Regions from separate parts of the Homo sapiens genome. Here region 2 is linked to region 1. Evidence: fine-mapped expression QTL. A gene starts in region 1. The other region holds a variant in brackets. All regions are shown on one strand. Distances are between the middles of the regions.

Region 1 (5,370 bases):
AACAAAATAGTAATGAATTATAAGATAACATCAAAGTAAAGAATAATACCTAGAGAAATCATCTTGCAGAGATTTGATTTTTTAAAACTATGCCTAAAGTTTACTCAAGGAAGAGCATCTGATAAGAGAGCTTTCCCCCCATAAACCAAGGACTGCAAAAGTGTGGATTATCAGAAGAGATCCGGTACATTCAGGGTGGTATGGCCATAGACAAGGGCTGGGTTATCAATGTAAGGGTGAGAGATAAGTCTCCTCTCCCGTACCCCTACCACCAGGAGCCAGCAAGGCAATTTGTCTTAGTGCCACGCTGGACAACCACAAAACCACAAAGATTTGTGGTTGAGAAGTTGCAACCACAAATCACCCCTCAATATTTGCAGCCCAAATTCATATTACTATTATAGCATGGTTCAAAAATCCTCAAATTATAAATTTGGTTTACAATGACCTTGGACTGGTGATGCTGACAAGAAAAAAATTTACATGGAAGAAAAACAATATCAACCCTCTCTAGATAAATTCACTTTATCCTGGAACTCAAAGAAATTTCACAAAAATGTTTCCAAGGAAAATGAGCAGCCTGTCACACAAGGAAACAAGGTACTGTGGTATGTTCGAGGAAGGTATGTTTGAGGAATGCCCCCAATTAATGTCCTGGGGACATTATTTAATGCTCTAGGGACATTATATAATGTCCCCAGAACTCATAAATCAATAAGAAAGAGATAAACAGCTTAATAGAAACACAAAGAAAAGTCCGTTCACAGAAAAGGGAAGGCAAGAAGTTAATGAAAGTAGGAATAATGACTGACCTCACTTATAATGAAGAACATGCAAATTAAAAAATGAGGTAACATTTACTTCACCTGTCAATTGGCAAAAATTAAAGCTGGATAATGGCAGAGATGATGAGATATGGGAAATGGATGCTGTTAGGTACTGCTGGTGGAAGTGGCACCATCAAAAACAGTGGAAATAGCAGATCACAGAAAGATATCTGAGGGGACTTCAGATCTCAGAATTATCAGGCTCAACTATATTTACTATGTACAAAGAAAAGCTTAAACATATCGGTAAATTCTTTTAAAAGATCGATCTAGAATATTTGGAAAAAATCAAATAGAAATTCTAGAAATGGAAAAAATATATTAATTAAAACAAAAATATGGGTGGCCAAGTGGGGAGGATTGCTCGAGCCCAGGAGTTTAAGACTAGCCTGGGCAACATAGTGAGACCCTGTCCTTACAAAACATTTTTTAAAGATTAGCTGGGTGTGGTGGCTCATGCCTGTAGTCCCAGCTATTTGGGAAGCTGAGGTGGATTGCTTGAACCCAGGAGTTGGAAGCTGTAGTGAGCTATGATAGCACCGCTGTACTCCAGCCTAGGTGACACAGCAAGACCTCGTCTCTTAAAAAACAAAACAAAACAAAACAAAAAAACAACAACTGTGGATTTTGTAGCACATTAGAAACAGCTGAAAAGTGGATTATTAATAAAAAGGTGAAGACATAAACCCAAGTCAAATATGGGCAGACAAGAAAAATATGAAAGTGGGACAGAGACATGGAGGATAAAGTGAGATGGTCTAACACCTATGTTATATTCTAGGAGTTCATTTACTCTATAAGTGTATATTTTTAGCAAATATTGTACCAGACACTTTGCAAAGTGCTGGAGAAGAGTAAGACAAGAGGGTTTCCTGTTTCCTGAGTGGATTCTGGAGTAACACTGGGCCACCCAGTTGAGACAGACTGCCTTCAGGCTGGACGCGGTGGCTTGCGCCTGCAGTCCTAGCACTTTGGGAGGCCAAGGGGGGAAGATCGCTTGAGTCCAGAAGTTGGAGACCAGATTGGGCAACATAGAGAGATCCCCCTCTCTGCAAAAAATTGAAAAAAAGTCCCAGCTACCCAGGAGACTGAGGTGGGAGGATTGCTTGAACTCAGGGCTTCGAGGTTGCAGTGAGCTATGATCTCACCACTGCACTCCATCCTGGGAGACAGAACAAGACTTCTCTCTCTCTTTCTCAAAAAACACAAACAAACAAACAAACAAAAACCCCCCACAAAAAACAGCTCCGATGCTGGCTCCTCCAGGAAGCCTTCCCTGACTACACATACACACACGCACGCACACTACCCGGGGTCAGGAGCCTCTTAAGTGAGCCGGTTAGATCCAGTGCGCCCCCTATCTCCTCTGCCCCTACGCCTCGCGCAAGGCCCTCGCAGCCGGAATAGTCGCGCATTGACCGACTGGACTCTAAAGCCCCTTGGGGCAGGTGCTGTGTCCAGTAGTGTATCTGGCGATGCACCGAGTCCTTTCCACGGAGGGCAAGCAGGTGAAATGGCACGGAAGTGGAAGGGGCCTAGCCACAGAGCGCCTCGAGCTGGGCAGTCAATCCTGGGGAAGCCCTGGTGGTCTTCGCCTCGCCGGGTTCGGAACAGCAGGCTGGGATCAGCAACCATCGAGACGCATCCGCCGAGACCTCCGAGCATCCTAGAGAGGACACGGAAGCGAGTCTTTCCTTACGCACCTGTCTAACAGCGTCCGCAGCTCACTTCCGGACCGCGGATAGCACTGGCGACCCTAGCGGGTGAGAGGCCCTTCAGGGCCGCGGCGGGTGAGAGCCTCTTCAGGGCCGCAGCGGGTGGCGGGCGAAGTGGTAAACGGGCGCGGGGACGGGTTTTGGTGCCGCTACGGGGCTCGGCGGCAGCGGGGTTGCAGTAGAGCCCGTCTCCCTCCGCTCAGCCCCGGCTGAGGGCGGCAAGTCTCTCAGGAGCTGCCTTCAGCGGCCCCGAGGCCCTGCGGGTCTGGACGCTGAGGGGCCGCCGCGCTGTAGGCTCAGGTAGGAGCGAGGCTGATCCCGCTCTGCCAGGCTTGGCTTAGTGCAGGGCTGGCCACGAACCCGAAGAGATCTTGAACCAAAGCAGAACTCTGTGCAAAGTGAAAGTAATCACATAGGACACTTATTTAAAGAATAGTGATGAGCCAGCCTGGTCAACATAGCGAGACCCTGTCTCTACAAAAATTGAAAAGTAGCCGGGCGTGGTGGCACGCGCCTGAGGTCCCAGCTACTCGGGAGGCTGAGGCAGGAGGATCGCCTGAGCCCAGGAGTTCAAGGTTGCACTGACTTACATTCATGCCGCTGCACTCCAGCCTGGGCAACATGGGGAGACCCTGTCTCTACAAAAATAAATAATTAGCTGGTCATGGTGGCACTCGCCAGTAGTCCCAGCTACTCGGGAGGCTGAGGTGGGAGGATCGCTTGATCCTAGGAGGCAAAGGCTGCAGTGATCGCACCACTGGTCTCCAGCTGGGGTGATAAAACCCTGAGATCCTGTCTCAGAAACAAAACAAAAGAGTCACAATGGGTGGGGGGAGATAAAGAATAGCAATGGGGCAATTTCTATTTGTCAAATGGCAGAGATAAAAGATGAATGAGGATCTTTCTTGCCTCCAGGGAATCTGTTAGAGGGAGACACATGGGTAAACATTTGCACTGTAGTGCATTAAATGCACTAGTGGAGTGAACCAATGCAATAGCTAGAAAGGAATGAAAGAGAAATCTCAATGTTGCAGAGTCAATGAATAGACTGAAAATATAAACTTGGTTTAAGTGGGGGTAGATAAATACACAAACTCACAATAGAATATTTAGCAGAAGCTTTGGGGTGTGCCTCCTGCCAGCTGCCCATTCTCTGCTCCAGTCAGGTGATCTTTCCGTTTTCTGACAAGCAGGATCTCCTTCCCCTGGTGCTTTGGACTTCCAAGTCTGTCTTCCCAGTCTAGGTCTTCCGCATAATCCACTTGGAGGTAAATAGGACTCATTCTCCAGTCTACTTCAAGCCTCTTCTTTTCCTTGAGTACTTGGACTTAGATTAGTTTTCTCTCTTTTTGACTTCACATTTTTTTTTCAATCTGTACCATGTATTTTGGGAGGCAGTTATCATCTAGTCTCTTTTTTTTCTTCTGAGAAGTAGGAGGAGTAGCACTCATCCTACAGAAGTGTTTTAAGTATTAGATGAAATATGTGTTCACATGCTTTCTAAAGAGTAAAGCCTGTACAAGTTAGAAATCTTTAGGTCATTTGTCATAATGGTATATATGTTGCTCCATTGTCTTTTTCAGGTTGAGCGCACCATCACATCTAAGCCATCAGCAAGTTTGTTGGTTTTAATCTCCAAAATACGTCTTGATTTTGTCTGACTCTTTGCCACCACCCTGATCTAAGCCCTTATCATCTGCTTGAATCACTGTAAGTGCCATTTCCCTCTTGCCACCTCTAGCCTATTCCCTGTCAACACACAGGCAGAATGACTTTTATAAAACATGTAGTTCCTCGCTAAAGTAAGAAATAAGAATAAAGTTCATAATTCTTTCTGTGGCGCAGGCTCTGGGTGATCTGGTTTCTGTCTGCCTCTGCCACCTCTTCTGGTGCAGCTCTGCTCGTCACTGCTGAAGCCACACTGGGATATGGCTTGTTCTTGGACACCCAGAGTAATTTCTTAGCCTCAGGGCTTTTGCCTGGAATGCTCTTAGAATGACTGACTCATTCTCATCCTTGAGTCAGCCTGGTATCATGTCTTTAGAAAAGCCTTCTTCAAGTCAGTTGCCCCCTGTTAACAGAGCACCCTACTTATTTTCTTTCTAGAACTTGTCTCCACTTGCAGTTTTTAAAAGAGTTGCTTCCATTTGACTTTTTCTGTCTGCTGTACCAGCATATGAGTTTCAGGAGGGTAAGCTCCCAGTGTGTCTTGTTTTCTATTTTATTTGTTGTTTCTGCCTGCCTCTTGTGTGTGTATATGTGTGTGTTTGTGTGTTGCATGTATGTTTCCTTTAGTATTGGAAGAGTAGGCCCTGGTGACTCACCCAGTTATAACCCATTATATATTATTCTCTGATTGTAGTGTTATTCTCCAGTGAGATCCTAAGTTATTTGTGGGTATAAAAGCAAAATCTTAGACATTTTCTGTTTAGTCTCTGTACCTAATAGTTGCTTAGCAAATGATTACTATGTTGAATTGACCTGACTTTTGGGATCTGTGTTCAGTCTTTTGAAAATGCCTTGTAAAAGGTAATTACTGTGTTCTCCAGTGGAATATTCCTTGATGTAGAGACAGAACTGGGATGGGCTGACCTTTCATGTGTCTCTTGTTCTCAAAAGGGTCATTGATGCAGTCATTCTCAGTCTCCTCGGAGGGAGTCTGAAGATGCTTAAAGAGCATCCAGAGATGGCGGAAGCTCCTCAGCAGCAGTTGGGTATTCCTGTGGTGAAACTGGAGAAAGAGTTGCCATGGGGCAGAGGAAGGGAGGACCCTAGTCCAGAGACTTTTCGGCTGAGGTTTCGGCAGTTCCGCTACCAGGAGGCAGCTG
Region 2 (5,370 bases), 200 kb before region 1:
GATAGGTAAGGCCACATGGGTCACGTGTCCACTGGAAAGCGGGCCCTTGCCTGCCTGGCACCAAGGCAGAGAGAGAGAGACAGCTTATGCCATTATTTCTGCTTATCAGAGACTTTTAGTACTTTCACTAATTTGCTATTGTTATCTAAAAGGCAGAGCCAGGTGTACAGGATGGAACATGAAGGCGGACTAGGAGCGTGACCACCAAAGCACAGCATCACAGGGAGATAGTTAGGCCTCTGGATAACTGCGGGCGGGCCTGACTGATGTCAGGCCCTCCACAAGAGGTGGAGGAGTAGAGTCTTCTCTAAACTCCCCCGGGGAAAGGGAGATTCCCTTTCCCGGTCTGCTAAGTAGCGGGTGTTTTTCCTTGACACTAACGCTACTGCTAGACCAAGGTCCGCTTGGCAACGGGCATCTTCCCAGATGCTGGCGTTACCGCTAGACCAAGGAGCCCTCTGGTGGCCCTGTCCGGGCATAACAGAAGGCTTGCACTCGTTTTCTGGTCAGTTCTCACTATGTCCCCTCAGCTCCCATCTCTGTATAGCCTGGTGTTTCCTAGGTTATGATTGTCGAGTGAGGATTATTATAATATTGGAATAAAGAGTAATTGCTACAAACTAAGGATTAATGATATTCATATATAATCATATCTAAGATCTATATCTAGTATAACTATTCTTATTTTATTTATTTTATTATACTAGAACAGCTCGTGCCCTCGGTTTCTTGCCTCGGCACCTGGGTGGCTTGCCACCCACAGCCATCCTAGTGGGTATAAAGTGGTATTTATTCATTATCAGTAGTTACTTACAAAAAGAAAATCCTGCGCAGACCGACCCTATTCCCCCAAACACACTCTTTGTTTCTCCCCAGCTGAAACAGAACCGCATGAGGGAAAGAGGAAAGTGGAATCTCTGTGGCCCATCTTCAGGATCCACCACCAGAAAACCCGCTACATCTTCGACCTCTTTTACAAGCGGAAAGCCATCAGCAGAGGTAATTAGTCAGTCTCTCTTGGACTTTGAAGCTCGCGTCACTTTTGGAGTTACTGAACTAACCACAATCCTTATTCTCGCAACCTGTGCAAGTCATGGTTTTTCTTACCACGAAAATTAGGGGGAGCCAACGTTGGCTGAGTTTTGTGTGTGTGTTTGTTTTTTGTTTGTTTGTTTTGAGATGGAGTCTCACTCTGTCACCCAGGCTGGAGTGCAGTGGCGCAATCTTGGCTCACTGCAAGCTCCACTTCCTGGGTTCAAGCGATTCTCCTGTCTCAGCTCCCAAGTAGCTGGGATTACAGGCACCTGCCACCACACCTGGCCAATTTTTGTATTTTTAGTAAAGATGGGGTTTCACCATATTGGTCAGGCTGATCTTGAACTCCTGACCTCAGGTGATTCACCCGACTCGGTCTCCCAAAGTGCTGGAATTATAGGCGTGGTCCACCGCTCTTGGCTTTTTTTTTTTTTTTTTTTTTGAAACAGGGTCTTGCTCTGTTCCACAGGCTGGAGTGCAGTGGTGCAATGATGGCTCACTGCAGCCTCAACCTTCTGGGCTCAAGGGATCCTCTCACCTCAACCTCCTGAGTAGCTGTGACTACAGGTGTGCACCACCACACCCAGCTAATTTTTAAATTTTTTGTGGAGATGGGCCCTTGGCCCAGGCTGGTTTCTTAACTCAAATGATCCTCTGGCGTTGGCTTCCAAAAGTGCTGGGATTACAGGTGTGAGGCACCTTGCCTGGCCTAAGTACTTTTTTTTTTTGTTCCTCCTCCAAGGACTGTCCCGTTGCAATACTGAATGCCTTTTTTTTTTTGAGATGGAGTTTCGCTGTCACCCAGGCTGGAGTCCAGTGGCACGACCTCAGGTCACTACAACCTCCGCCTCCTGGGTTCAAGTGATTCTCCTGCCTCAGCCTCCTAAGTAGCTGGGATTACAGCTGCTACCACGCCCGAGTAATTTTTGTATTTTTAGTAGAGACGGGGTTTTACCATGTTGGCCGGGCTGGTCCTGAACTCCTGACCTCAGGTGATCCGCCTGCCTCGGCCTCCCAAAGTGCTGGGATTACAGGTGTGAGCCACTGCACCCGGCCTGAATGCTTTTTTTGATCAAGGGTGGGGAAGGTTTTTAGACCATGGCCTGATGCTCTTTCCCCATCTTTTTGACAGAACTCTATGAATATTGTATTAAAGAAGGCTATGCAGACAAAAACCTGATTGCAAAATGGAAAAAGCAAGGATATGAGAACTTGTGCTGCCTGCGGTGCATTCAGACACGGGACACCAACTTCGGGACGAACTGCATCTGCCGCGTGCCCAAAAGCAAGCTGGAAGTGGTAATGTCTGACACTCAAGCTTGGTGTTGTTTTCAGCTCAAAATTCTGCCTTAGTCGACTGCAAGGGATCTTATGTTATTTGGTTGGGCTGGAATGTCGTTTTGTCCCTGGATGTCCTGCTGGCTCTCCCTCGTGGGAGTGGGTCCCTGTATTCAGGAATCCATGTGAGGCAGCGTGTGGCTGTGTGTTTGTTAGGTCTGGGGTCAATCTCAACTCCACTTTTGGGCAAATTACTGAACCCCTTTCCTCACTTAGGAAATGGTGGTGGGGAGCCCTAATCCCAAGGTGGTGGCAGGGTGACATCAGGGAAGGACAACCAGTGAGTTCCTGTCCCTTTCAGTCCTCACAGTGATACTTTAACATTACCATCACTATCTTTCCCGCCCCCCCAAGACGGAGTCTTGCTTTGTCGCCCAGGCTGGAGTGCAGTGATGCCATCTTGGCTCACTGCAACCTCCACCTCCCGGGTTCAAGCGGTTCTCCTGCCTCATCCTCCTGAGTAGCTGGGACTACAGGCATGCACCACCACGCCTGGCTAATTTTGTATTTTTAGTAGAGACGGGGTTTCTCAATGTTGCTCAGGCTGGTCTCGAACTCCCGACCTCAGGTGATCCACC[C/T]GCCTCAGCCTCCCAAAGTGCCGGGATTACAGGCATGAGCTACTGCGCCCAGCCCACTGTGTTTCTTCTTTCAGAACTTTCTGTTCCAAGTACCACTCCTAGGCCAGGCGCCTCAGGAGTGGTGCTGAGGGACAGGAGCTGAGCTCCATCCGGTTCCAAGCCCCTCTGAAAGGCAGCTGTGGCCCGAGGCAGAGTCACAGCAGTGGCCGCTCAGTGCAGCCCCTCAGCACAGTTGTTGGCCCCACCGCCCATCTGCCAGCCTGGCCTTCTTTTCCCCAGCTCCACACAGGGGCCTCTTCACATGAGTCCCCTTTATGCTGCAGTGAGACTGACAATGGAGAGCTGTGGCTGGATGCTGAGGACTTGGGTACTGAGCAGTGGGGGCGAGCAAGGGCCGCCTCCCCGACGGAAGACTGGGGTGTTGGTTTTCTGATGGAGGCAGGGACAGGTGGCAGAGTGGCAGAAGCCCCCTTCCTCTGAGTGCCCAGATTCCACAAGGAGTCCAGGTCAGGGGCTGGTGGGCTGGGGTGCTGCTTCAGCCCTGTGGCCAAAACAGCCCGCTGTAGACTTACCTGGGTTTCACCAGAGGATCCTGTTTACTTAAACTATGGTCTTGTTCTTCCAAAAAAAGAACTTGAAAAAGTAAAATAAACACAAGCCACTGTTCTAGGGCTTTCTGGCTGGCCAAGTGTTGGGCCGCACCAGGCCTGGGGGACAAGACCCTTCTTTCTGGGGGGCTCTGGGCCAGAAGGGTGTGACTCAAGTGCATAGTCTCCTGCCCTCTTCCCCCACCAGAGTGTACCAGCCCAGAGGCCCCCCTGAAGTCCCCAAACAGTAGCAGAGCCACGTCTGCTCATCGCAGGGTCTGTCATGCTCACTTAGCAGAATAACGAGACTCATTCACACCGATTTCTTTTTCTTGATTGGCAAACGTGTGTTGGATTTGCAGAACATATTATAAATAGACATACAGATGTAACCTCGGTGTCAACAGCAGCTGGTTCTACCTTCATGAGGGAGCCAAATTTTCCCTGTCCAGAGCTGTCAAGGAAGGGTTTCTGAGGTGTGTCCCTATATGGCATGGTGGCAGGTCCTTCGTGGGAGGGTTGCCACATATGTGAGTGTGCAGGGGCGAGCGTGGCGCAGTGGCATCGTCTCACTGTCCTCCTCCGTTGCAGGGCCGCATCATCGAGTGCACACACTGTGGCTGTCGTGGCTGCTCTGGCTGAGGCTGGCGCGCTCCACCCTGGACTCTGGACTTCGCAGGTTCCTGCCTGTCACGCCACCCCCTTCCTGGGAGCAGCGAGCAGTGCCCCAGGCCCGAGTTGGAGCACGGTCTCTATGGGGAAGGCTTCGCTGTCTATCAGCTGTGATTTGTAAAAATAAAATCTTTAAATCTCTCGAGCCCCACGTCTCTTCTTTCAGAGCATCGGCCTATGGAACCCGGCGGGGCGGCCCAGGCCCCAGGGACCAGATGCCCCAGCCCCCTTGTGGTGTGTGAGGTGACACACAAAGGTAGCTGGAGCTGGAAGTCCCGTGAAGGTGACACGCAAAGGTGGCTGGAGCTGCACTTGGACCTGCTGGGAGCACAGGCACCTTGGGCCTAGTGTGTGTCCTCACCAACACCTGTGACACGCTGCGGCTGTTCCTCAGGGCCTGGCTCTTCCCCCAGGCAGGAGGTGACACCAGCTCACTTGTCCTGGGGCTCCCACAGAGCACTGGGGGCCGAGCACATTGTTCCAGCTGTGCTCCCATCACCTGCCCCCAAGGGCACATCCGTCATCAGCCTCCTTGCCGGTGTCCTGGTCCCCCTGGGGCTTGGTCCGGAACTTCTGCCAGGGGTGCGGGGTTTCCTCTGCGGGCATCACTGTCAGCCACTGCTTGTAATAGGCTCGGAAGCCGTCAATCTTCTCCAGGTAGGTGTTCTTCCCTTGGTACTAGAATTAGAAAAGTGAGGCTAGAATCACTCCTGTTACCTACAGCTAATCCCAAACCTCGGCAGCTGGCTCAGGCCTCAGGGAAGCTGGTGGCTGCCATTTTCCCTTCCAGGTGGCTGCAGAGGACAGGGCAGAAAAGCTGTGAACACGCACTATGGGACTAGCTTACTTCAGAGAAACAGGTCCCCGCTGGGTACCCTGGGGCAGGCCCAGAGCCATCTGCCCAATGGCGTTCTTCCCAAATAGGCACCACTGTGCTCCTCCATCCGCAGTTGCCACCCCAGGCCCCCAAGCCAGAATCACTGGGTCCCACCAGCTCTGCCTCCACAGCCTGCCGAGCCCCTCCCCATCAAAGCCACCTCCCTCTGACCATTATCTCAACACTGCCAAGATAGGCTCCATGAGATATGGGGAAAAAAGCAAAGACACACCAGACACAAACTGAGAGCTGGTAGGGGAATATACCAAAAAAGCCAAAAAGT

Direction of the effects. Positions count from the first base shown, and alleles are read on the strand shown. Sizes are in standard deviations (SD) of each study's normalised expression.
For the expression in transverse colon of the gene that starts at base 2,547 in region 1, allele C in region 2 goes with a lower level than allele T (small effect, 0.34 SD a copy in GTEx).

The links. PIP is the estimated chance that this variant, and not a neighbour inherited with it, causes the effect. A credible set is the group of variants that fine-mapping cannot tell apart.
Region 2: its variant is the best candidate, but not a certain one, in a credible set for the expression of ZSCAN25 in transverse colon (GTEx, PIP 0.64).

The regions. Positions count from the first base shown.
Region 1 is chr7:99,614,400-99,619,769 of GRCh38, forward strand. It overlaps ZSCAN25 (zinc finger and SCAN domain containing 25), which reads left to right and starts at 2,547. Exons shown (of 8, transcript NM_145115.3): 1 at 2,547-2,617; 2 at 4,126-4,252; 3 at 4,649-4,733; 4 at 5,162-5,370. The coding sequence starts at 5,208. RefSeq lists enhancers at 1,693-2,672, 2,263-2,582.
Region 2 is chr7:99,415,262-99,420,631 of GRCh38, forward strand. It overlaps BUD31 (BUD31 spliceosome associated protein), which reads left to right. Exons shown (of 6, transcript NM_003910.4): 4 at 877-999; 5 at 2,168-2,334; 6 at 4,130-4,355. The coding sequence ends at 4,180. ATP5MF-PTCD1 (ATP5MF-PTCD1 readthrough) reads right to left here. Exons shown (of 9, transcript NM_001198879.2): 9 at 1,478-4,888. The coding sequence ends at 4,706. PTCD1 (pentatricopeptide repeat domain 1) reads right to left here. Exons shown (of 8, transcript NM_015545.4): 8 at 1,478-4,888. The coding sequence ends at 4,706. Among named protein-coding and RNA genes, the nearest start is that of MIR12119, 8.8 kb to the left of the region's middle. RefSeq lists a silencer at 372-421. The variant C/T (reference allele first, on the strand shown) is at 2,952.